Regions from separate parts of the Homo sapiens genome. Here regions 2 and 3 are each linked to region 1. The links come from fine-mapping of genetic effects on gene expression. A gene starts in region 1. Each other region holds a variant in brackets. All regions are shown on one strand. Distances are between the middles of the regions. Region 1 holds the start of ZFYVE28 (zinc finger FYVE-type containing 28). Region 2 holds the start of LOC105374352 (a long non-coding RNA gene). Region 3 overlaps ZFYVE28 (zinc finger FYVE-type containing 28).

Region 1 (8,178 bases):
CATAAACTCTCTTGAAAAGACTTTAAAGAAAGGCAAGAAAGTATTTCACCAACATCAATAAAGCAGGACAAGCTGACAGGTTTTCCTGCACCGTCTCTTCCTGGGAGTGTTCAAAGTCAGGATAATACTTACAAGATCTGAACACTTTATACCAAGAAAAATCATATTGGTGTTTAAAAGACTGATTAAGAAAGTGAATAGAAATATAATTTGCAAATGTCATTTTAATGTTAAACTTTTGTATTATTCATCAGGCATTCTTTTACTCAACTTAGGTAGCTAACGTAGTAGCTAATTTTTATTCAGATATCAAAATGTATGTCACACAGGAATATTTTTCAGCATTTCCAATTGCTTTTTATAACTATAAGAACAGTGAATAATATTTTCATTTCAGAATATTTTCCACCATATTGTGATGAACAAGAAGCTCAGTGCTGGCCAAGCACAGTGGCTCACACCTGTAATCCCAGTGCTTCGGGAGGCTGAGGCAGGAGGATTGCTTGAGGCCAGGAATTTGAGTCCAGCCGGGGCAACATAGTGAGACCCTGTCTCTACACACACACACACACACACACACACACTTAAAAATTTATAAAAAGAAGCTCGCTGTGCAGTTTTAAACCAAAGCAGGAATTCAATTAAAAATTCAGTTTGAATTGTACATCTATCTAAATACAAAGTGGGAAAAAAATTCCTGACTGCAGGCAACAGTCTCCCCCAGACACATCCTCCCACAGCTAATGTTTAACACTTCAACTCTTCCAGGCCCAGAATCTTCCCAGGACTGACTTTGTGCTTATTTGTGCCAAAATGTGTTAAATTAGACAGGAAGGGGAAGCATAAAATTCAATTCATAATCCAAGGCAAGAATCTGAGCTTTGGTTTGAAAAATGAAAAGCTATGGAGTGACATAACATACTCCGACCCTTCAAACAATCAAGATATTTAACTCCAAAGACATTTCTCAAATAAGAGACAGCCCAAGTTCAGACTGCCCACAGGGCACCAGCTCCCAGAAAAATGCTATGGCCAGAGACAGATCTGAAATGGAGATACGTCTCAAGTCCAGAGCTCTGGAGCTACTACCAGACAGCATGCCAGGAGAAGACAACGAGAAAAAGGAGAGATCCACATCAATCCTGTTCCATCCCTTCTCCGGAGGCACACAGCTCTGGGCTGATCCCTGGGATCAGCTGATTCACTGGCTGTGCCCTCTTGGTGCCCGCCGCCTGCCTGGAAAGGCAGCTGCCTGCTGAAGAGGAAAAGTTGGGAACGCAATTCCTAATTCTCAGGACAACGTCTAGTACCATGTTCTACCTTTAACCTGTCTTCCCTAAACGGAAACAGACAAGGCCATCCTGAAATTACTCAGCTACTCATGAAACAGAGTCTACAATTATTTTTCCTTCCTTTTCAACACGATTAGAAGGGTGATCCCCCAAATGCGGCCTCTTCCACAGCCACGTCCGGAGGGGCATCCCCTAGTGTCCCAGCAAGTGCCTTCAGCGACACCAGAATGTTAGTTAAGACCTAAGACACATTTCTCCAGCTGCCTCCCGCCATTTGTCACAGAAAATAATGCTGCTGCACGCCCCCAAAACGCCGTTTTACAAGCAGACTTGGTTTTCAGTAACTGGTGAGGAAAAGTCACTGGAACCAAACACCATTCATACAGCTATCCAGAGCGGAGGCCACCGCCCTACCCCGGCAGAGGCACATGGGGGCAGCAGGCAGGACCGAGAGGGGCTCGAAGGCGCCGCAGGAGGAGAGGCTGGGCGCAGACGGCTCGGCCCCAAACCACACCCAGCGCCAGGAAACGCAAGGCTCGGGACGAACCCTTAAGAAGTCGCTGCTAGGGACAGGGAGGTTGGGAGCAGGGAGTGACGCCACAGGAACCCTGAATCCCCCCGAGTCCCCTCCCAATCAAGCCAAGGCCGAGCAAGGGGCGCCCCATGTACCGTAAGCCCTCAACCCAACACTCCGGCAACGACAAACAGAATTCCCCGACCTCAAAGGCCGTGAAGCACGCGCCCTTCGGGGCCCTGAGTGAGCCCTCAAACCTCCGTGCCGATCTTCCAAACCCACCTCCCGCCTTCCTGGAATGGGCGCACGCGAGGCACGGATTTCAGGAAACCTCTGCCGTGACAGCTCACCCACGGTGGAGGCGGAGGCCTGGGACGCTGGACGGAGAAAGGCGGCCAGTGGAGGGAGGAGGGGTAGGTCGGCAACGCGGTGGCCTCGGACGTCCGAGCTGCCCGGACGAAGCGCTGGCCCCACTCCCGCCCTTGGTCGCCGCGGTGACCCCACCCGAGCCGTGACCTCCCCCAAGATCTCAGGGCCCGGGCCTCCCCGCTGCGCCGGCCCCAGGGTGCCACCCTCGGACGCCCAGATGCGCCCTGGACCCTGCGCCGGGATCCTGAACACCGCCGCGCCTTCATCCCGCGCCGAGCGCGCCCGGCCCTGCTCCGGCTGCAGCGGGCACGAGCCCCAGGCGGGCGGCGGGGACGCAGCGCCCGCAGTGCGACTGGCGCAGCCGCTGAGGCACGGGGCGCGCCGCCCGGACCCCGACCCCGCGGCGCTAGGAGAGGCGCGGGCGCCGGCTGGAGAGCCGCACCTCCCGCCCCGCCGAGGCTGCTGGCCACGGGCGCGCTCGCCCCAAGGGCCGGGCGGAGGACCTGTCCCGGATTCCAGAGGACGTGGGTGGGGAAGGGACAAGGATAGGGACAAGGGAGGGGACGCGAACTGGGCCGAGGTGTGGGTCAGTCCTGGTTCGGGAAGGGAGGCCGTTGGCAGGGCCATCAGGATCCTCTCTGGACATGGAAGGACGGGTCTGCCCTGGACCCAGGGATTGGGAAATGTGGGTTCTCTCAGAACCTGGGGAAGTGGGGAGAGGGTCTGTTCTGGAGTGCGGAGGGAGATCTATTCCGGGCCCAGGACAATGGGGGTGGGGGCAGGACGGGAATGAGGGGGCATTCCTGGTGCAGGGAGGGGAGACGGAGAAGTAGTAGGGGGTCTGCTCCGGGCCCGCGGGCTGGGGACCACGAAGTGTAGGAGGGCACCGTCCAGGACCGGGATGAGGAGGGAGAGGGGCCCGTTGTGGCCCTGGATAGAGGGGGAGGGAAAGTGCGCCCCGGCCCGAGAGGAGGAGCAGGAGGGTCAGTCCTGGACCCGGGCTTAGGAAGCCGGGAGGGAGGTTCGGATCCGCCTCAGAGACAGGGCGATGAAGATCTGTCCAAGTCTTGGAGTGGAGGGAAGGATGTCGGCGGTGGGGGAAGAGGCCGGCCACGGACAGGGAAAGGGAGTCCGTCTTGTAGGGCGGACGGGCGGTCCTGGGGAAGGGAGAGGCCGCGACGCGGGGGGCGTCCGGCCCGAGCGGGGCCGCTCACCTTGGGTTTGTAGAGCCACTTTCGGAACCTGTTCATCATCGCCGCGCCGGCCCTGGCCGGACTCCGGGCGGCCCTCGCCCTCCGCAGCGCTGCGCCCGGGCCCGGCTGAGGCGCGGGGCGGACGCGGAGGCACGGCCGGAGCCCCCGCGCTGTCGCAGGGAGGCTGGCTAGCGAAGCCCGGAGCGCCGAGCGGGCGGCGGGCAGGTGCGCGGGGCAGGTGCGCGGCCCTGAGTATGCTCTGCAAGCGGCGCGCCGGGCAGACCTCAGACCCGGGAGTGGGCGCTCGGGCGCACGGACAGACGCGGGCACGGGGGCGCGCGGCTCCTCGCTGCTCACTGACACCCAGCGCTCCGCTGGTCACGGCCGCCCCGCGCCGCACATGCGCCTAGGGCGCCGCGAGCCCCGGGCCCACCGCGCGCTGCGGGCGGGGCGGGCGGGGCGGAGGCGGCCCAATCCCTGCGCGGGCGCCGCACCCCGCCCGAGGCGCGCTCCCTGCCGGCGGGGCGACCCGCCGCGCCCGGGTATCCAAGAAACTACAAGTCCCGAAAGGCATGGCGGGGAGGTGGCGCCCAGGGCTTGGCGTCCCGGGCCGCGCCGCGGCGCTGTGTATTGTGGGAGTTGTAGTCCACCCGATGGCGGCGGAGCGTGCCGCCGGTTGCTAGGTGACGACGCCAAACAGCCGCGGCGTCCTGCCTACCGGGAGCTGACGGACGACGACTGCCAACACCTTAGCCCCAGCTGGCCCAGGAAACTGCTGCGGTGGCAGGTGGCGGCGGCAGGAGGGCTCGGCTGCCCCGAGCGCCCGCCAGGTACGGGGGCGGGACAGGTGCGGGGCGACGCGCCGCCGATTTTCATGACCTGCCGGCCGGTTCCCTCTCGCTCGCTGCTCATCTTGCTTCTCCCAAACACCTCTTCTGTCTTCTTCCCAGCTCCCCGATGAAAGTGAACGGTGCCTCTTTTTTTTTTTTTAAATCACCACTATCAGCGGTGCGTTCTAAAAAGATACTCTTCCGCCCTCGCTACTCCCCCCAGTGGTGCCCTAATTTGTACCTTAAAACGCTCACCTCAATCTGAGTACCTGCTATGTGTCAAGCAGAGAGCTAAAAACCCACACGTGGCCTCACTTAAACTTCCCATTGACAGCCAGAGAAGCAGGCACAACGAGGCCGGCGTGCCCTGGCTGTGGGGGTTGCATCCAGATCACGGCGGATCTGGGTCGGCCTGACCCCACAGCGCTGCACTTTTCCCTGCCGCACCACCACCACGTCTCTGGCTTGTTGTGAAACGTGCAGATGTAAGACACAGGAGATGGAAGTCATGCCCCCCTCGGTTCAGAATTGAGAAGTCTGACCTGTTCCTGCTTGTCCTCACTGGCCAGTGCCAGGTGCTCAGAAAGGTCCGTGGGCTCCATGACCACTTTATTCCAACAGACGCGATGTGAGCCTAGGCGCGCTGGCATCTAAGATTTCTCTTAGTTGGGGGTAGGGTCCATGTTTATTTTTGAGTAACTGATTGATTTTCCCTACTCTCCTCTTCCTACCACCCAGTCGACCCTCTGAAGGGCAAAACCCCTCTGGAGTTTCCCCTTATCTCCAATTCCTTCCCACTTGTTCTTTCTGGAAACTACTCCCATCAGATTTTCACCCAACCACTCCTCTGAAGCTCTTTATCAAAGTCATCCTTGACCTTGATGTTGCAAAATCCGATGATCGGGGTCAGCGCTCATCTCTTCCTTGAACTGTCACTACCACGTGACCCAGCCGACTGTGCCCTCTCCGTGACACAGCATCCTCACTTGGCTGAAACAGATCCCACTGTCCACTTCTCCTCCTCGCTCCTGGCCACTCCTGCTTGATCTCCTTGGCTGGATGCCTCCCCTGCTCACCGACCTCTCAACACTGGAGACCCTGGACTCAGTCCTTGGAACCTACTCTATCCACTCCCTCCCTGGGGGATTTCCTACAGTTACATGGTTTTATAAACAACCATTTTCTCCCAAACTTCTCAAAACCTATATCTCTAGCCTCAACCCTGAAACTCCAGACCTGTTTACCTGTTCTTCACCATTTGGACGCCTAACAGATCCTCTCAAATTTAACGTGTCCCAAACCACACTCTCAGTCTTCCCCCATAAAACCTGCTGCTCCCAAAGCCATCATTTCTTCAGCACAGGATCTTGGGGTAGACACTTGATGGGCTTGTCCACTGAGTGAATGGCTGTTCTCTGTGGGTCTATCCTTGGCCAACTCCAAGGCCTGGAGCAGTTGTATCTGCTCAGAGGCTCCCTTCCTGTGTTTTATAGTTTGAAATTGTGCATGGGATGAAGGCTGAACTTGGGGAAGTGGGGTATCAGTTAGGTTTAGCTGCATGTATTGAAAAATCCCAACATCACAGTGGCCTAAACAAGAATATTACTCATATTTTTATAAAAGAGGTCCATGGAGAGGCAATCGTGGTTGGTATGGCAGCCCTAAAGTCCTCAAGGATCAGCTTTTCTATCTGCCATTCACGTTTCTTCATGATCCAGGATGGCTGCCCACATTCCTGCCATCACCTCCTCGGCCCAGGAACCAGCTGCAAAAGAGAAGATGGATATGCCTCTCTCGTTCAGGGAGACTTTCCAGAAGTCTCACACCTTTCCACTTCTTGAAGGTGGTGGGAGAACTTAGCCACACAACCATGCCCCAGCTGCCAGGGAGGCTGGGAAATGCCATCTTTCAATTGGGCAGCAGTAGACCCAGCTAAAAATCAGAGTTTTCTTATTTGGGAGGAAAGGGGTAGTGGAGATTGAAAAGCAACTAGCAAAAGCTGCCACGTGGGGTTGTGCTTTAAGCACAAGCCATAGGGGCATGACTTGGTAGCAACCCTTAGGAGACTGGCTTTAATCGGGAGAAAAGACTATATTTTAATTAACATACATTTGAGATCTTAGGTAAATGAGTTATCTCCTAGTGGTTGAGAGTGTTGAGCTGTTTTGTGTCTGATGGAATTTAAACCTCCTCATATAATCTCATTTGTGTCTATAAAATATTTCCTAAGGAAAGAGAAGCTTTAGTCTGCCCACCCTTTTTTTTTTTTTTTTTTTTTTGAGATGGCGTCTCGCTCTGTCGCCCAGGCTGGAGTGCAGAGGCACGATCTCAGCTCACTGCGACCTCTGCCTCCCGGGTTCAAGCAATTCTCTGCCTCAGCCTCCCAAGTAGCTGGTATTACAGGCACCTGCCACCACGCCTGGCTAATTTTTGTATTTTTAGTAGAGATGGGTTTTCACCATGTTGACTGGTCTGGAACTCCTGATCTCAAGTGATCTGCCCGCCTTGGCTTCCCAAAGTGCTGGGATTACAGGCATGAGCCACCGCGCCCAGCCTAGTCCAGCCCACCTTTAAAGTTGCCTTAAATATAAGATAGTCAAGTCCTGATCAATGGAGTTAAAATCAATATGAGAAAAAAATCTTTAAACTTGAGAATTAAATCCCACTTCCCACATAGATGGTACTTCACTATTAAAGCTGAACTTTGGAATGCTCAGGTGGGAGGATCGCTTCAGGCCAGGAGTTCAAGACCAGCCTGGGCAACATAGTAAGACCCCTGTCTCTACAAAAAAAAAAAAAAAATTAAGCACAAAATTAGTCGGGCGTGGTAGTACATGCCTAGAGTCCCAGCTACCCCGGAGGCTGAGGCAGGAGGATCACTTGAGCTGCAGTGAGTTATCATCGAGCCACTGCACTCCAGCCTGGGTGACAGAGTGAGACCCTAAATCAGGAAAAAAATAAAATCAGGCTGAGAATTTGAGAATGCATGAATGTAGCTGAGATGCTGAAAGCAGGCGTCACAGTTGGATGAATTTTAGTACCTATTTCCTCCCCAAAGAGGTGATTGTTTTGATGAAGTTCCTAGGCTAATTTCAGTGGGATTCAGAATTCAAGCATCTCTTTTCCTTACATTCACCTTCACATACACCTGCTCTGCGCCAGATTCAGGGGTGCAGAGGCCCCGCCCCAGGGACCTTCAGGCCGGACAGTGAACCAGGGTTCCAGGGGCAGGGCAGGACAATTTGAGTCAGGCTGGACTCCAAAGGAGCTCTTCACCCCCGTCCCCATCTTCAACTTGGTTTGTCCATTTATTCCTTCCAGTTCATTCCTACCAGGTCCGCCCTGGATTGGGGGGCGGGCTTGGCATGGCCCTCTTCCTCCTCCTCGATTTGCATCACCAAAGGGTACCTAGGATCATCCTTTCTCCAGAATGCTCCAGCTCCAGGACAGGGGGAGACGGCAGGGAAACTGTTCCACCTTGGCAGCAGCTCCCACCACACACATGCAGACCATCCACTCTCACCGCCCCCACCAGGCGCAAGAAGGGGCCCTTTTCCTGGGTGTATACCCTGTTCCTCCAGGCAGAGCTGTATCCAGAGCAGATTCAAAAAGGCTGGGGCAAGGGGACCCCATCCCAGGGCAGCCTGACCCACAACGTGACGTGGAGGCAGGGCAAGAAAACTCACTCTTTAACATTGTTTCTCTAGAAGTAGACCTTTACATTTATTTATTAGACAGGATCTCAATGTGTCACCCAGCCTAGAGTGTGGTAGCACAGACATAGCCCAAAGCACCTTCAACCTCCTGGGCTCAAGGGATCCTCCCACCTCAGCCCCCCAAGGAGCTAGGACTACAGGCGTGCCACCACACCTGAGTCATTCTTTAATTTTTTTGTAGAGAAGTCCCCAGTTACGCTGTGGAGTTTTAAAAAACGTCTCAGTGTGGCTGACCCTGGCGAAGATGGGGAGTGGGATTTGTGA
Region 2 (8,178 bases), 67 kb before region 1:
GTCTACTACATAAAAATAAAAAAAGAAACTAGAGAGAGAAGAGTAAATGAAACCCAAAGCAAACAGAAGAAAGGAATAGCAACAATCAGAGCAGAAATTTAATGAAAGAGAAAAGATTAAAGCAATAGAGAAAATCAATGAAGCTAAAATAGTTCCTTTGAGAATATCAGTAAAATTGATAAAACTCTATCAACACAGTTCAGAATGAAAACAGAAGATACAACTTAATAACAGGAACGAGAGAGGTGACATCGCGGTGGATCCTACATATATTAAAAGGATTATAAGGAAATATTACAAACAACTTATGCCAATAAATTCAACAACTTAGATGAAATTTCTTAAAAGGCATAAACTACCAAATCTCTCTCAAGAAGAAATTTCTGAAATAATGTGAAAACCCTATATTTATTCAAGAAATTAAATTTGTAGTTAAAAATCTTCCTACAAAGAAAACTCCAGTTCCAGATAGATTAATAGTGAATTCTACCAAACATTTAAGAAGAACTAACACTACACAAACTCTTCCATAAAACTGAAGAGGACAGAATCCTTCACAACTCATCTATGACACTGTCTTGACACCAAAATCAGACAAAGACTGTGGGCCCATATCCCTAATGAATATTGATCCAAAAATTCCTAACAAAATTTTAGGAAACTGAATTCAATAATGCGTAAAAGGATAATGTACCATGAACGAGTGGGATTTATCCCAGGAATGCAGGAGTAATTTTTTTTAACATTCAAAAATCAATCAATGTATGCTTATGCTCTTCCTGGACCAAATAAGGCAGAATCTCTGGGATTGGGTCCTGGCATCTATATTTTTTAAGCTTTCACAAGGACTGTGAACCATGGATATGGTCTAACATCTGCATTTTCTTAGCAACATATCTGATCTCTTCTCTATTTTTAAGAATCTATTTTTATTTAGGGCCAAATTCTGTCTTTTATCTTTGTAGCATATTTGTGATTCCCAGCTGGTTCTCTGATCCTCTTTCTACCAGAGAACTAAAATGATGCGTCTTCCATCATTTTGTAAGACAAGAAGACACCAAGAGTTCCAGCTACCCTGACCTTTGGATGCTATGGCATCAGGCAAACAACCCCTTGTTTTCTGTTTATTGCATGTTCTGACAGACGAGTCACCCAGTCTGAGTGGATTTAGTGTTCTAATTCATGAAATAAGAGAATCGGACCAGATGAGCCCAAAGTCTCTTTCAGTGCTATAGATAATTATAACTCTCAAATAGCTATGGTGAGAAGGCTGAATGTATATACTGGCATGAGATTCAAACTTTTGGCAGCTCGACACAGTTTACAATTGTTTATGTGATACCATAGCTATCATATGCCAAAAAGAGTAAGTCACACTATTCAAAAAGAAAATATGCAAACACCGCATATTCTCACTCATAGGTGGGAATTGAACAATGAGAACATATGGACACAGGAAGGGGAACATCACACTCTGGGGACTGTTGTGGGGTGGGGGGAGGGGGGAGGGATAGAATTGGGAGATATACCTAATGCTAGATGATGAGTTAGTGGGTGCAGCGCACCAGCATGGGACATGTATACATATGTAACTAACCTGCACATTGTGCACATGTACCCTAAAACTTAAAGTATAATAATAAAAAAAATAAAATAAATTAAAATGTAAATGAATCAGCCAAGCGTTCCCTGTTTCAATGATATAACTGAGTGCCTACTGTGTACTAGGCACTGGGATGTACTGGTGAGTGTTGTGTGTACACACAGCCCTGCCCTCATGGCATCTGCATGCTGCTATTGCTGTTGAGTGATGGAGTGGATACTAATAAAAAGTCAGTATTTATCGAGTAAAAAAAACCATCAATGTAATTTACCATAATAAAAATAACATGATAATCTCCGTTGACACACAAAAAAAGCATCTGAAAAAAAAAATCTAACATCTATTCCTAATAAGAACTCTCAGCAAGCTATGAGTAGGTGGCAACTGCCTTGGCCTGACAAAGGGTAGCTACGAAAATCCTACAGCTAACATCACGCTTATCTTTGGGGAGAAAGCATTCAGAGTTCCATCATTAACAAAAGATGTCTGCTCTCACCACTTCTATTCAACTTTGTACTGGAATTCTAGCTAGTTCAATAGGGTGACACACAGACACACACACACACACACACACACACACACACTCGGCATCCAGAGAGAAAAGGAAGAAGTGAAGATTATCTTTATTGGCAAAAAATTTAACAGAATCTACAAAAAGCTGCCAGAAATAATAAGTGTATTTAGAAAGTATGATATTGTAGGCCGGGCGCAGTGGCTCACGCCTGTAATCCCAGCACTTTGGGAGGCCGAGGCAGGTGGATCACGAGGTCAGGAGATCGAGACCATCCTGGCTAACATGGTGAAACCCCATCTCTACTAAAAATACAAAAAATTAGCCGGGCGAGGTGGCGGGCGCCTGTAGTCCCAGCTACTCGGGAGGCTGAGGCAGGAGAATGGTGTGAACCTGGGAGGCGGAACTTGGACTGAGCCGAGATCGCGCCACTGCACTCCAGCCTGGGCGACAGAGCGAGACTCCGTCTCAAAAAAAAAAAAAGAAAGAAAGAAAGTATGATATTGTAAAATATACGTTTGGTCATCTTCCCATTTCCTGACATACAGCTCCTAAAAAGCCTTGGACTCTCCAGAGTGATAGGAGTTCACTGGTGGCTGGGGGGCCCTAGACAGCTTCAGGATGGGGGGCTGGTCCCTGGGAAGATCAACGCATGTTAGAGGGTTGGGACTTTCAGCCCCCACCCCCAACCTCCGGGGAGGGGAGAGGCACTGAAGAATTGGGAAGTGTTCTCACCAACAGCCAATGATATATAATCAATCATGGCTCTATAATGAAGCTTCCAAAAACACCCAAAAGGACTGGTTCAGAAAGCTTCCTTTGGGCTGGCGAACACATCCGCCTGCCAGGAGAAGGGCACACCCCAACTCCACGGGACAGAAGCTCCTGCCCTTGGGACCCTTCCCGACCTTAGCCTGTGCACCTCTTCATCAGGCTGTTCATCTGTACCTGTTACTACATTCTTTATTCATAAGCCAGAACCATAAACGAAGTGTTTCCCTGAGTTCTGTGAGCCACTCTACAAATTTATCCAACCCAGAAGGGGGTCATGGGAGCCCCGATTTATAGCCAGCTGGACAGAAGCACAGACCACACCTGGACTTGGGATTGGCATCTGAATGGGGGGCCGTCTTGTGGGACTGAGCCCTCACCCTGTGGGTTCTGAGGTCACTCCGGGTGGACAGTGTCAAGATGAGGTTGAATAGAGGACCCCCACTGCTGTCCCCTGCAGAACCTGCTGGGGAATGACTCGGTGTGTGGGGAATACCCTACTCATCTGGTCATGGAGTGTTGAGTGACTGTGTGAGAGTAGAGAGTAGAAAGTAGGAAAAACCATTACCTAGATTCCCACAGAAAGGTATTAGGATACAAGATCTATATACAAAAGTCAATAGTATTTCCATATAGGAGCACCAAACAATCAAAAATTGACATTTAGGGCCAGGCACGGTGACTCATGCCCGTAATCCCAGAACTTTGGGAGGCCAGGGCAGGTGGATCACTTGAGTTCAGGAGTTTGAGACCAGCCTGGCCAACATGGTGAAACCCCGTCTCTACTAAAAATACAAAAATTAGCAGGGCATGGTGG[C/T]GCATGCCTGTAATCCCAGCTACTCAGGAGGCTAAGGCAGGAGAATCGCTTGAACCTGGGAGGTGGAGGTTGCAGTGAGCCGAGATCGTATGACTGCACTCCAGCCTGGGCGAGAGAGTGAGACCCCACAGGGTGAGGGCTCAGTCCCACAAGACGGCGCCCCTTCAGATGCTGATCCCAAGTCCAGGCATGGTCTGTGCTTCTGTCCAGCTGGCTGTAAACTGGGGCTCCCATGGCCCCCTTCTGGGGTTGGATTAATTTGTAGAGTGGCTCGCAGAACTCAGGGAAACACTTCGTTTATGGTTCTGGCTTATTTTTAAAAATTGACATGTAATAGCAATACCACTTATAATGTCATAAAAAGACATGAAATACAATTATCCCTCAGTACACGCAGGGGACAGGTTCCAGGACCCCCAGCGTATATCATATCTGCACATACTCAAGTCCCACGGCTGGACCAGCGGAACTTGCACAGCCCTCCATATATGTGGGTTTTGTGTCCTGAGAATACTGTATTTTAGATCCAAGTTAGGTTGAAACAATGCATGTATAAATGGACCTGTGCAGTTCAAACCATGTTGTTCAATGTCCAGCTGTGCTGGGCGTAAGGTGGGCCCTGTGAGATGCCCTCAGGGAGCTGGGAGGAACACCGGGGAGCACACCTGGATCTGCGGGGAGGAGAAGCTGAGAGCCTCCCCTGGGGGTGCTCAGCACAGACATGGAGCAGGATGAGGCCGCCATGTCGGGGGGTGGACAGGAAGAGGCCAAGGACTGGGCGTGGGACCCACATGGAGGAGGCTGGGGGAGGAAGGGGAGATAGGAGGAGGGAGGAAGAGGGGGAGGCGTGGAAGAGGGAAGAAGGGTCACAAAGGAGCCAGTGGGATACGAGATGAGCCAGAGGCAGGGCCCTGGAGCGGAGTGGACAGAAGTGAGCCCGAATCAGATGATGCTGAGGGACCTGGACAGTGTCCACACCCTCTCAGTTCCTTCAAAGACCCCAGCAGCAAGGAGAAGAACCTGAGTGTTTAAGGCCTTCACTATGCTGGGAGCATCCCCCTCCAGATCCTTCTCACAGGGCAGTTCTCACGGTGATACATCCCAATTAAAGCCTGTGGCAGCGGGAAGCCTGAGAAGGGGCCACCTAGCTTGGCAGCCCCCACCTCTCAAACTCACTTAAAACCAGGCTTTATCATCAACTCTGTCAGTCAACAAAAAAGCACACAGGTCACAGAGCATGTAAAGGGAACAGAGCCCCTCCCCAAAGGTTGCCATGAGGAATAGCATCTGATCCCCCTTCCTCATCGGTGGGGCCACGGGGCAGGTCTAGCACCTCTCCTCCGTGGCACTTTCCTCCTCCAGGCTCCAGGGCCCCCAGCACCTGTCCCCTGGGCAGAAGGTCTTTCTAACCTGAGCTCCTGGGGGCAGGGACTCTCCCCACCCACAGAGGCTGTCCCTGGAGGGGCCAGAACATCTGTGGGAACATCTGAACACATGGAAGGTGGAGGCTGCCACTGAACAGCCCAAAAAAGAGCCCAGAGCCTGATCCGGCCAGAAAAGTTGTCCTGGCCACACACAGGGCCCTAATGCTGCTGAGTTCCCACCGCAGCAGGGCCAGGCCCAGAGCCAGGGCTGGGGTGCAGCCAGCTTGGCCACTTTGCAGGAGCCCCACAGGGTGGGACCCTCAGGACCACGGTGACACAGTGATAGACTCCCCCCTGTTGGAGGAGCATGTGTCAGGCCCCACCTCCCATGGCCGCAAGGATTCAGCAAGACCCTGTGGGAAGAGTACACCAAGAACATTCCGGAACTTTGTGAAAACCCCTCGTCATCACTTGATAAAACTTTGCAGCATGCCGTTTGCCGTTGTGTTGGAAATGCCTCTGAGTGCTTGGTGTACTGGGAAGAAAACCTCGGCCAGGGTATTTTTAGCGGCAGCTTCCAGGGCCATCTGTCAATTATGCAGCAGATGCTGGCAGCACCATTAGTCAGTGGCAGAGTGTGACCACTGCATGGTACCCAAGCTCTGCACCAGCACCTGGGCAGGCCCACCCCTCCCACACTGGCTGCCCCTTGGCTCAGAAGCCTGCTCACTCCGCACCCCCTGCCCCCGCTCTCCCAGCCTCTGCTCCCCCAAGTGTCCCGTGCGGTTTCTCACTTCCAGCCCGGCTACCCACCCCACGCATCCTGCCCGGGATGGTCCCTCTTCCTGGGCCTGGCTTCTCTAGCACCCGACCCTGACAACGCCACCACAGGGGGCCAGCAGGTGACAAAGCCTTGGTCTACTGAGGACAGGCCACTCTGTCCAATGCCCAGCGGGGCCAGCCAGCTTCTGCTGCCCCGTGGCTCACCTGACAGGAGCGGAACTGGCTGACCAGCAGCGTGCACCGCTGGGGGTCCTTCCGCCCATCCAGGCTGTCCAGCTCCGCGGCCACCTGGTTCAGCTCCTCGTCGGCATAGTAGAACCGGGCAAGCAGCTGCGGATCCGACCTCTGCAGGAGAGAGGGGCCAGGGCCATGAGTGGGTGGGGAACTGGAGGGGATGCCTCGGTTGGTTGCCTTGTCCCCAGGCCATGTGTGGGCTCAGCCTGGGACCTTCCACCCTGAGCAGCAGCCGGCTCTTTTATCAGCTTTCCACACCAGGATCTAGAGGGAAACAACTAAAGCTGAGGCTCAGGCTGCCAGCTCAACCCCTGATTCAAGGGTCCCCAGGGCCCCTGCATTTCACCCCAGGACTGTGGGGAATCCAGATCCTTTGCTGCACCCCAGACACAAGGTCCTCACGCTCCCTCTGGTGGAGAGCCCACAGAAAAGGGGCTCTGGGAAGAGTGGGGTCCCCGGCGCTCCAGGCGACAAAAGCAGCTCTCAGGAAATTTTTTTTTTTTTTTTTTTTTTGAGATGGAGTTTCACTCTTGTTGCACAGGCTGGAGTGCAATGGCACGATCCCAACTCACTGCAACCTCCGCCTCCTGGGTTCAAGCGATTCTACTGTCTCAGCCTCCCCAGTAACTGGGATTATAGGTGCCCGCTGTCATGCCTGGATAATTTTTGTATTTTTAGTAGAGACGGGGTTTCGCCATATTGGCCAGGCTAGTCTCGAACTCCTGACCTCAGGTGATCCACGCGCCTCAGCCTCCCAAAGTGCTGGGATTACAAACATGAGCCACTGTGCCCGGCCAGGAAATATTTTTTTATTCACAAAACCAAAATATGAAGTGGCCCAGAATAACAATAAAATTTACTACACTTAAGTGAAGAATGATTGACAGTGCATCATAAACCATTTCCCATGATTCAGAAACAATTTGCCACACACCCCCCACTTCTCTAGGAACTTCACAGCATCTCAGTTTCCACACCAGTGCACTGTGGCAGGAAACTCTACGCTCAGAGGTTCCCCTCCCACCAAACACGCAGGGGCTCAGAAGCTGGTCTTCAACTGCAACCACCACACGCCCCAACCCCGCCTGGCCTCCTTGGTGCTCTACGCACACAGCACGGCCACCGTCCCTTGGCACGTGAGGTTCCCACTGCCCCAGGATGCAAACAGCTTGTTCCCCTGGATCAGAGTTTCGAGGATTCAAAGAAGCCCCTTACAAAAGTGATGAAGTCCTTGAAAATATATATATATATATATATATATATATATATATATATATATATATATATATATATATATATATATATATATAATGATTCTTCTTTTTTTTTTTTTTTTTGAGACAGAGTCTCACTCTGTCGCCCAGGCTGGAGTGCAGTGGCGTGATCTTAGTTGACTGCAACCTCTGCCTCCTGGGTTCAAGCGATTCTCCTGCCTCAGCCTCCCGAATAGCTGGGATTATAGGCATCCATCACCACGCCCGGCCAATTTTTGTATTTTCTGTAGAGATGGGGTTTTACTATGTTGGCCAGGCTGCTCTCAAACTCCTGACCTCGTGATCCACCCGCCTCAGCCTTCCAAAGTGCTGGGATTACAGGCCTGAGCCACTGTGCCCAGCCTATATACGTATTTTTTGAGACAGGGTCTCACTCTGTTGCCCAGGCTGGAGTACAGTGGCATGAGCATGGCTCACTGCAACCTCCGCCTCCTGGGCTCAAGAGATCCTCCTGCCTCAGCCTCCCAAGTAGCTGAGACTATAGGCACACATCACTATATTCAGCTAATTTTAAATTTTTTCTAGAGATGGGGTCTCCCTGTGTTGCCCAGCCTGGTCTTGAACTCCTGGCCTGAAGCCATCCTCCCACCTTGGCCTCCCAAAGTTGCGGAGATTATAGAAGTGAGTCACTGTGCCTGGCCTGAACCTATTTTTATAAAAAGGACTCTTTATAATCACAGAGAGAAAGACAGAGGAGAGGAGAATATACCAAATCGCGCACAGTTCGAATGCGCTGGCCGTGTTCCCCACAGACTCCCATCTCCGTCGGGGCCGTTTCCTCCGTGTGCTCTGGCCTGCCACCCCTCCCCTCTGTGTGGCCT
Region 3 (8,178 bases), 86 kb before region 1:
TTTGGCTATTTAGGGCCCATTGCAGTTCCACATGAATTTTAGAACACCTTTTCCATTTCTGCAAAACAAAAAGGCCAATGGAGTTTCGACAGCAATTGCACAGAATCTGTAGATCACTTTATGGAGTATTGCCATTCTAACTATATTAAGTCTTCCCATCCATGAACATGGAATGTCTTTCTCTTTAATTATGTCTTTAATTTTTTCAGCAACGTTTTTTAGTTTTCAGCATCCATGCCTTTCACCTTCTTGATTAAATTTATTCCTAGGCATTTTACTCTTTTGAATGTTATCACACATTTCTTATTTAAAATAACAGCTAATTACATCCAATGGAATATTATTCAGCCTTAAAAAGGTAGGAAATTCTGACACATGCTACAACATGGGGGAAACTTGAAAACATTATGTGAAGTGAAATAAGACAGTCACAAAAGGGTAAATCCTATATATTAGGTTGGTGCAAAAGTAATTGCAATTTTTGCCATTAAAACCCTAAGAAAGGGTCAAAATGGCCAATTTTGTTATGTATATTTTACCACAATAAAGAAGAATGTTTATTGCTTTAATTTCTGTTTACAAAAGTTTTACCTATCAATGTTAAGAAACTCTGTAAAATAGAGACATACTATTTGATAACAGTTTTTGTGCTTAATACACTGGGGATGTTTTTGCATAGCATTAGGAGATTTTTCTCCATCATTATTTAAATGGCTACAGTATTGTTTTTAACCAATCCCTTAATTCTGGATATCCATCCCTTCTCAAATTTTTATGATTACAAGTAATACTTCGGGGATAATCTTTGTGGATATATATTTGTGCCCCCTCAGATCAATGCAACAAAATTCTGCAAAAGTCCACCACACTATGACATGACAGGCACTCAGGATGCATCCGTGAATAAGAGTTATAGTCTAGTGGGGGAGACACAAAAATAACAGAAATCCCATTTATATGAATAACCCAATAGCCAAATCTATAGAAACAGAAAATAGATTTGTGGTTCCCTAGGGTTAAGGGGCAGGATGAAGGATAATAGGGGGTGGAGGTGACCGCTCAGGAGTAAGAGACATCTTTGTGAGTAATGAAAATGTTATGAAATTTGTGGTGATGGCTGCACAATTCTGAATGTACCAAAAACGACTGTGCACTGTAGATGGGTGAGTCATAGGGTAATGAATTTTATCTCAGTAACATGGAAAAATAAATAACAGAGTAAGTCACGCAACCTGCTGGTGGGAGAGGGCTTGGGTGAGCGGTGCAGTGGTGGGGACATCGCAGAGGGAGGTACAGCAGGGAGTAGGGGACAGTGCAGAGGAGAGGACAGCACGGAAGAGGGGACATCATGGAGGGGACAGCACGGAGGAGGGAACATCATAAAGGAGGGGACAGCATGGAGGAGGGGACAGTGCAGAGGAGCACAGGGGAGAGGACATTGCAGAGGAAGGGACAGCATGGAGGAGGGGACAGCATGGAGAATGGGATAGCATGGAGAATGGGATAGCATAGAGGAGGGAACAGCATAGACAAGGGGACAGCATAGAGGAGGGGACAGTGTAGTGGAGGGGCCAGCACCATGGAGAGGACAGCATGGCCAAGAGGACACTGGAGCAGAGGGGACAGCGTGGAGGAGGAAACATCATGGAAAAGGGGACAGTGCGGGGGAGGGGACAGTGTGGCAGTAGGGATAGGACAGTCAAGGGGACCCTGAGCGAAGGGGACAGCATGGTGGAGACCCAGGGCAGCGGGTGCGTGGGGACTGGGGAGAGAGGACTGGTGTGGGCACGGTGCAGGCAGATCACGGTGGGAGCTCCGGCAAGGGTCTGAGCAGGGCAGAGATGACACCTTGTTTTGACACAGGTGGATGGGTGAGGGCCCCTGAAGAGGATCCGGCAACCATCCTGCAGGCCACGTGGGCGGTGGCTCCTGCACGTGTTCTGGGATGGGCTGGAAGGAGGGGGCTGGGGAGGAAGGCAGGGGTAGACGCTGGGATGGGCTGGAAGGAGGGGGCTGGGGAGGGAGGGAGGGGTAGATTCTGGGATGGGCTGGAAGGAGGGGCTGGGGAGGAAGGGAGGGAGGGGTAGAGGAGAGGGGCCTGGGTTCTGCACAGGTCCGGTCTGGGAAGCGTCGCACACACACAGCTGTGAGTGCAGACGGGCGAAGCCGCAGCGAGGCGGGCAGGCAGGTCTGTGCTGATGGGGACTGGGAAGTGACCACTGGGTCTAGAGGTTTTATTTCATTTCTTCCTTTAAAGGAACTGTTTTAAGGCCGGGGCTGGGCACGGTACCTCATGCCTGTAATCCTAGCACTTTAGGAGACCAAGGCAGGCAGATTGCTAGAGCCCGGGAACTCGAGACCAGCCTGGACAACACAGCAAGACCCTGTCTCTATTTTTTTTTTAATTAAAAAATAAAAATAAAAAGTTAAAAACAAAAAAAAGAAACTGTTTTAAGATAAATCCCCAAAAGTAAAACCAGTTTGTCAAAGAGTCTGAGCCTCGTGGAGACACTCTCCCCAGGACGCGTGTCTCAATCAGCAGGAGGGACTGACTGGATGCAGGTCTTAGGGAGGGGACAGGCTGAGGGGTGCAGGGCAAGTGGGGCCCCTCCCCTACGGCTCAGAGCAAGTCCCCACAGGGGTGACCCCCAGTTTTTGTCCTCACTGCCTGGTAAGGCCAGACCCCACCAGGCTGGGGACACCCTAAACAGGGGGAAGGGTGCCACCCAGCACTCCCTTCCACCTCCCCCTGCCAATCTGAAGGCCTCAGTTTACCACTGCCTCTGCCCCAGGCAGGCCTCCTCTGCCAGCCACAGAACTAGAGTTTTCTGCTTTCTTGTGTCACAGGTGAATAGCAGGCTCTGACCCTCGGGTGGGCTTGGTTCTGCCGCCTCCAGCTGTTGACCCCCAGCGGTGCCTTCGCCACTGGGAGCCCCTCAGAAGGGGACGGGAGCCTGGCCCGCAGCTCATGCTTGGTAAATGTGGCATCACTGTTCTGACACTGTGTGCTGGAGAAGGGACTGGGGCTCTCGGGCAGCAGCACAGTCACGGGCAGGAGCCACAGAGGAGCTCCACCCTCAGCTCCTGCCCCGCTCAGCACCCCTGCCTCCCCTCTGCTCTCAGTGTTCCCTGGGGGTCACCTGGGGGGTCCCAGGATGCCCACTTCACAGAGGCAGGATCCTGCGAGGGTGTGGGCCCAGGAATGCAGGCTAGAGGGGTCTTCATTTCTGCAGAAGTTCCTGCGGCCCCCTGGTCCTTGCTCGAGCCCTGGACTTGCCCCTGAGCATACACCACCTGCACCAACGTGCCCCTGCCTGCCACCTGCACAGCTCCCACCTCTGGGCCGGCTGCCCTGGGGAGCCTCTCCCTCACGCCTTCAGCTCCTGTCCACCCCATGGGGTCCCTGCACTGAGTCCCCCTTCCAGCATCCAGAACATTCCACAGCACTGTGGGTCAGCCCATCTGTCCATCTCCCTGGTACAAGCACAGGGCGAGGTATGCAGTAGGCACTCAATACTTGCTCACTGAATGAACACAGGAAGGAGCAGGTTCTGGGCCCCACCACGGGCAGCTGTGGCCTCTGCCTGTCCGGCTCAAAGCGGTCGCTGTGGATGACGAGGAACAAGACGGGATCCGCTGGTGGTGCAGGGCTGCAGGGCCCCAGTGAGCATCCCAGAGGGGCGGCCTTAGGAACAGCTGCCCACTCAGCACTCACCCGCTCAGCACTCACCCGCCCTGCTCGAGGCTCGCTGCACAGAGGGTTGCAGTGGCAGCCTGGTGCACCCCACGGTTCCTCGTATCCACAGCCTGGCTCTGTGGCTAGATGCCTGCCTCTGTGGGGGCTCACAGCTGGCCACCCCCCTGGACAGGCCTGCTCCCTGGACTCTGGCTTTGGGCTCTTATGCCCTCTCGCCCTTCCTCCCTCCTTCAATCCAAGCCCCCTTCACCTCCTGGGGGTCCCTCACTCCCTTTCCAGGCTCTCCCACTGTCCTGAGCCCGAGGGGACCCCACGCCAGTGCCTCCAGGAGGGGACCCGCGGGACAAAGCCTCTGCCAACAGAAGCTCCAGCCTCCCTCCCCAACCTCCCTCCCTTGGCCTCCCCCGCAGCACTGGCCTCCCCTGCTGCCCTTCCCTGACCCCCCCTGCTGCCCTTCCCTGACCCCCCACACTCCCCCACCTCCCTCCCCAAGCTGCCCCCCCACCTCCCTCCTCTGGCCTCCCCTACCCTGATCCCCCAGCCCCCGCCTCCCCTTGCCTCCCAGGATGAAAGCCTAGGACAGAAGGAGGAGCAGAGGTTTGGCCACCAGCAGGTGGACTGAGGTCGGCAAGCAGGACACAGATGATACTGGTTGGGGGAAGTGGCTGCTGTTCTGCGGTCGCCTGTACTCGGGCAAACACGGGCAGCAGACTCAGTGTGAAAGTCCCGAAACACAGTATGCCTGGGGTGCGGCCTGCGGGGAGGGTCACCTGGGGTCACCTGCACACTCCAGGCCCGACCTTTAAGAGGAAGTCCAGCCAGGGCTCACCGGCTCATTGACACGGGCATGAGTGGGCGGGTGGCTTGGTGCCACACCTCAAAGCACT[C/T]GCGGAGAACTTTTTACAAGGACAGCAGAGCTGTTCATTTGCTGTGAGTGCCCTTGGGACAAGGAGACACCTGTACCTGAGGCAAAGGCTCACAGCGCCCTGCGCCCTGGTGGAAACAAGGCCGGCTCGCAGGATCTTTGCTGTTCTGTTTTTTAAACAAAGAGAAGAATAAGGACCAAAACTGCCTGTCATTTTCTTCAAGTGAGTTTGGCCACAGAGAGACACTTGTCTAGAAAAGAAAAACAATGTCACCAAATCCTGTGGCCCATGGGAAGGGGCGCTCTGTGCTCTGGGGTGGCCTCTCCCCGCCAGGACACTTCCCTCCAAGCCACCTTGTCGCTGGCCACTGGGGACACCCTGCCCTCCAGCCCTGAGGTCTTCAGGTGAAAGGAAGTTCCCTGAGTCTAACGGCAGGAGGATTTCCGAGCCTCCCTCTGGCGCGATGTGAGGCTCACTCTCTCTGGTTTGCTAACTTTGTGAAAGACGCAACCTCTGCGAGGACACGGGAAGGACGGCGCAGGAAACAGGCCAGGCCCTGAGCTATTGGAGGGGACTCTGGGGAGCCAGGGCCCAGCAGATAGAGACCACGCTGGAGCCCTCCCGGAGGAGGTGGCACCAGGACCTAGGGGAGTGAGCGGCCTGGCCCAGGGGTGTCCAGACTGGCCCCGGCAGCAGCCCCCATTGCTCCCCACTCCAACAAGGGGTGTTCGGCGCATCCTGGGGTTAAGCACTTCTGTCCCCTGCAGGCCCCGCCGCTGGCCCTAGCCCACTGCACTGCCACCGCCCCGCGTGCTCCCACCTCTGCACCCCCATTTCCCACGGGAGGGGTATCCATGCTCAACCCCAGTGCACTGCCACGTGTGCCTGTGCCCCGGGGTCCCCTGGGGCTCCTCAGCATGGCCTCAGTGAGGTCTCTCCAGCCTGAGCCTGGACCAGTCGTGGCCTCTGTGCCCACCCCCCACTCCCCGACCACTTCACTGACATCCACATCTCCACGGGCATCTCTCTCAAGGGCTCCCCATCCCCTACTCTGCCCAGTCCCACACCTGCTGGCCGCTGCCCACTGGACCCTCCCCCTTCCCCCTCCCCTTCCCCCTCCCCACTTCCGCCTCCCCTCTTCCCCCTCCCCTCTTCCCCCTCCCCTCTTCCCCCTCCCCTCTTCCCCCTCCCCTCTTCCCCCTCCCCACTTCCGCCTCCCCCCCAGCTGCAAGCTCCACTAAGCTCTCTGTGGTCCACTCACTCCTCCGCCCCCGTGACCATCCGCCTGGCAGGGGCATGGGGAATCCCCGTCTGGAGTCAGGGTGTGGATGAGCAGCCTGACCCCTGGGCTCTAACCTTGGCCCCAGACAGCTCAGAGACGCTAAGCAGGTGACCCCGCGCATCCTGCCTCGGTGGATTTCAGGCCTGAGCTTCCATGTGCTGTGTTCACGTCCTTGAGCCCCACAGGACCCTACAGGCTGCCTTGAGTTCCCTGCTCTCCCAGACGGCCCCGCTGGCAGGAAAGGTTCCACACAGGTATTCCATCAGCCAGACCAACTGCCCCCACCTGCCCTTCAACCCAATGTGCTTCACCTCCCTGCCAGCCCCCAAATTATTCAAACAAGCCAATCACAGCCTCCTGAGGGACCCGGGGGGCAGCTCGTCCTCTTGTTACCACCAAGTCTGCCTCCCACAGCCCCTGCGTGGCCACTCTGTTCCGAGCATGACCCCTGTGTGACCCTCATGGTCTCCTGTGACTAATGAGCTCACCTGTGGATCTCACCTGTCCAGTGGCAGGTGGCAGGTGTTAGGCCACCTTGCCCTATCTAGGGTGACAGAGCCTCCCTCACCAGCAAGGTGAACAGGGGGCACTCAGGACACGTGGTCCCCTGGTCTGCTGAGGGCTGACAGCAGGCCTGCCTGTCACTGATCGGGACAGCTGAGCGGCCACCGTGAGGTGGAGACGCCATGGACCGGCACCCGCACGGGACCTGGCACCATCAGCCCTGCCCGTCCCGCAGGTTTCTGCAGAGGTCCTGGGCACAGGAGGCACTCACCACACGATGGCCAGCCTGGGGATGCTGAACATGAGGGCCGGCTCGTAGTCATCAATCATGTCCTGAGTCAGGTACCCGAAGTCCAGGGCCCTGTCCGGGGAGACGGACAGTGAGCAGCATGAGGGCTGGCCCACCACAGCCACAGGTTGGACCCCAGCAGGGACAGGCAGTGCGCTCAATCTGTACCTGCAGCCACGCGTGGTGGCCACGTCAAGAGGTGACACATGCCACCCCCAGTCCTCATATGTGCAAGGGGCTGGGACTGCAGGAAAAGGCCACACACTTCCCTAAATGCCCTGGCAGGTGGCTCCAGCTTGACCTTCCCATCTGCCAGTCCCCACCTCTGCCCCAGGAGGCAGGGGCAGGGAGGATGTGTGAGGACAGCTATGATGCCCAGCAAAGACAGTAAGGCAACCCAGAGGACGGCTCTGCTCAGCCAGGAGACCGAAACAACTCCGGTGTCAAGAATGAACACGGAACAAAAATACTGCCCCAAACAATTCAACACTTCCCTGAGAAACCAGCTTCCTTTCTCCTCCCCGGGGCTTGTGGAGGGCTTTTCCTGCACCTCGTGAGCAGGCCTGCTGGCATCGTGACTTTTCAAAATAAAAGGAATTTCCCGTCATCTTATTTTCTGATAATTTGAAATATCTCTCAAAGCACAAAGAGTAAAAATTTGCTTTTTAAAAATAACAAACATACAATGTGATAATAGTCAATTTCAAATCTTCCAAACACCATAGTACCACTTGAACAAGAGAAACATCAAGGTTACATCTTAACCCCAAAGTCCATTGAGAAAACCAGACTCCAAATTACTGTACAAAGCCTGATAAGAATATTGATGGCTTCCCCCTGCCCCCCCCACTCCCTAAAAAAGAAACACTTGTTCAACAGACTTAAAACTCAGCAAAAACTCATTCCTGGACTGGGGAGGTGGGGAGTGAGGATTGAGGAGTGAGGATGTGAGGATTGAGGAGGTGAGGAGTGAGAATGTGAGAAATAAGGAGCTAAGGAGTAAGGAGGTGAGGAGTAAGGAGGTGAGGAATGATGAGGTGAGGAGTGAGGAGGTGAGGAGGTGAGGAGTGAGGAGATGAGGAGGTGAGGAGGTGTGGATTGAGGAGGTGAGGAGTGAGGAGGTGAGGAGTGAGAAGGTGAGGAGGGAGGAGGTGAAGAGTGAGGAGGTGAGGTGAGGAGTTAGGAGGTGGGGAAGTGAGGAGGTGAGTGAGGAGGTGAGGAGTGAGGGGGTGAGGAGTTAGGTGGTGAGGAGTGAGGAGGTGAGGAGTTAGGAGGTGGGGAAGTGAGGAGGTGAGGAGTGAGGACATGAGGAGTGAGTAGGTGAGGAGTGAGGGGGTGAGGAAGGTGACAAGGTTTGGACGTCCAATCCATCATGCCAGAGCCTTCCAGCTTTTGTCCTCTGACAGTGACTTCACCTGCAGGATCTGACCTTCTGGCAGACAGAAAAGCGACCGTGGGGCGGTGGAAGGGGGCCGGGCAGAGGTAAAGGCAGGGGTGGCCTCTACCCTCTGCCCACCTGTGAGGAGAAGCCGGATGTAGT

What was found. PIP is the estimated chance that this variant, and not a neighbour inherited with it, causes the effect.
Region 2: its variant is fine-mapped to the expression of ZFYVE28 in thyroid (GTEx, PIP above 0.99).
Region 3: its variant is fine-mapped to the expression of ZFYVE28 in lung (TOPMed, PIP above 0.99).

What each region holds. Positions count from the first base shown.
Region 1 is chr4:2,414,896-2,423,073 of GRCh38, forward strand. It overlaps ZFYVE28 (zinc finger FYVE-type containing 28), which reads right to left and starts at 3,750. Exons shown (of 13, transcript NM_020972.3): 1 at 3,390-3,750. The coding sequence starts at 3,428. CFAP99 (cilia and flagella associated protein 99) reads left to right here and starts at 4,060. Exons shown (of 16, transcript NM_001193282.4): 1 at 4,060-4,198. RefSeq lists enhancers at 1,352-1,910, 1,911-2,469, 7,860-8,178 and silencers at 3,475-3,634, 3,755-3,984, 4,225-4,274.
Region 2 is chr4:2,347,880-2,356,057 of GRCh38, forward strand. It overlaps ZFYVE28 (zinc finger FYVE-type containing 28), which reads right to left. Exons shown (of 13, transcript NM_020972.3): 2 at 6,054-6,194. It overlaps LOC105374352 (a long non-coding RNA gene), which reads right to left and starts at 3,624. Exons shown (of 2, transcript XR_925056.3): 1 at 1-3,624. The variant C/T (reference allele first, on the strand shown) is at 3,703.
Region 3 is chr4:2,329,085-2,337,262 of GRCh38, forward strand. ZFYVE28 (zinc finger FYVE-type containing 28) reads right to left here. Exons shown (of 13, transcript NM_020972.3): 6 at 6,621-6,710. Among named protein-coding and RNA genes, the nearest start is that of MXD4, 71 kb to the left of the region's middle. RefSeq lists enhancers at 1,830-2,329, 2,644-3,441, 3,442-4,239, 4,230-4,309, 4,240-5,037 and 2 more. The variant C/T (reference allele first, on the strand shown) is at 4,585.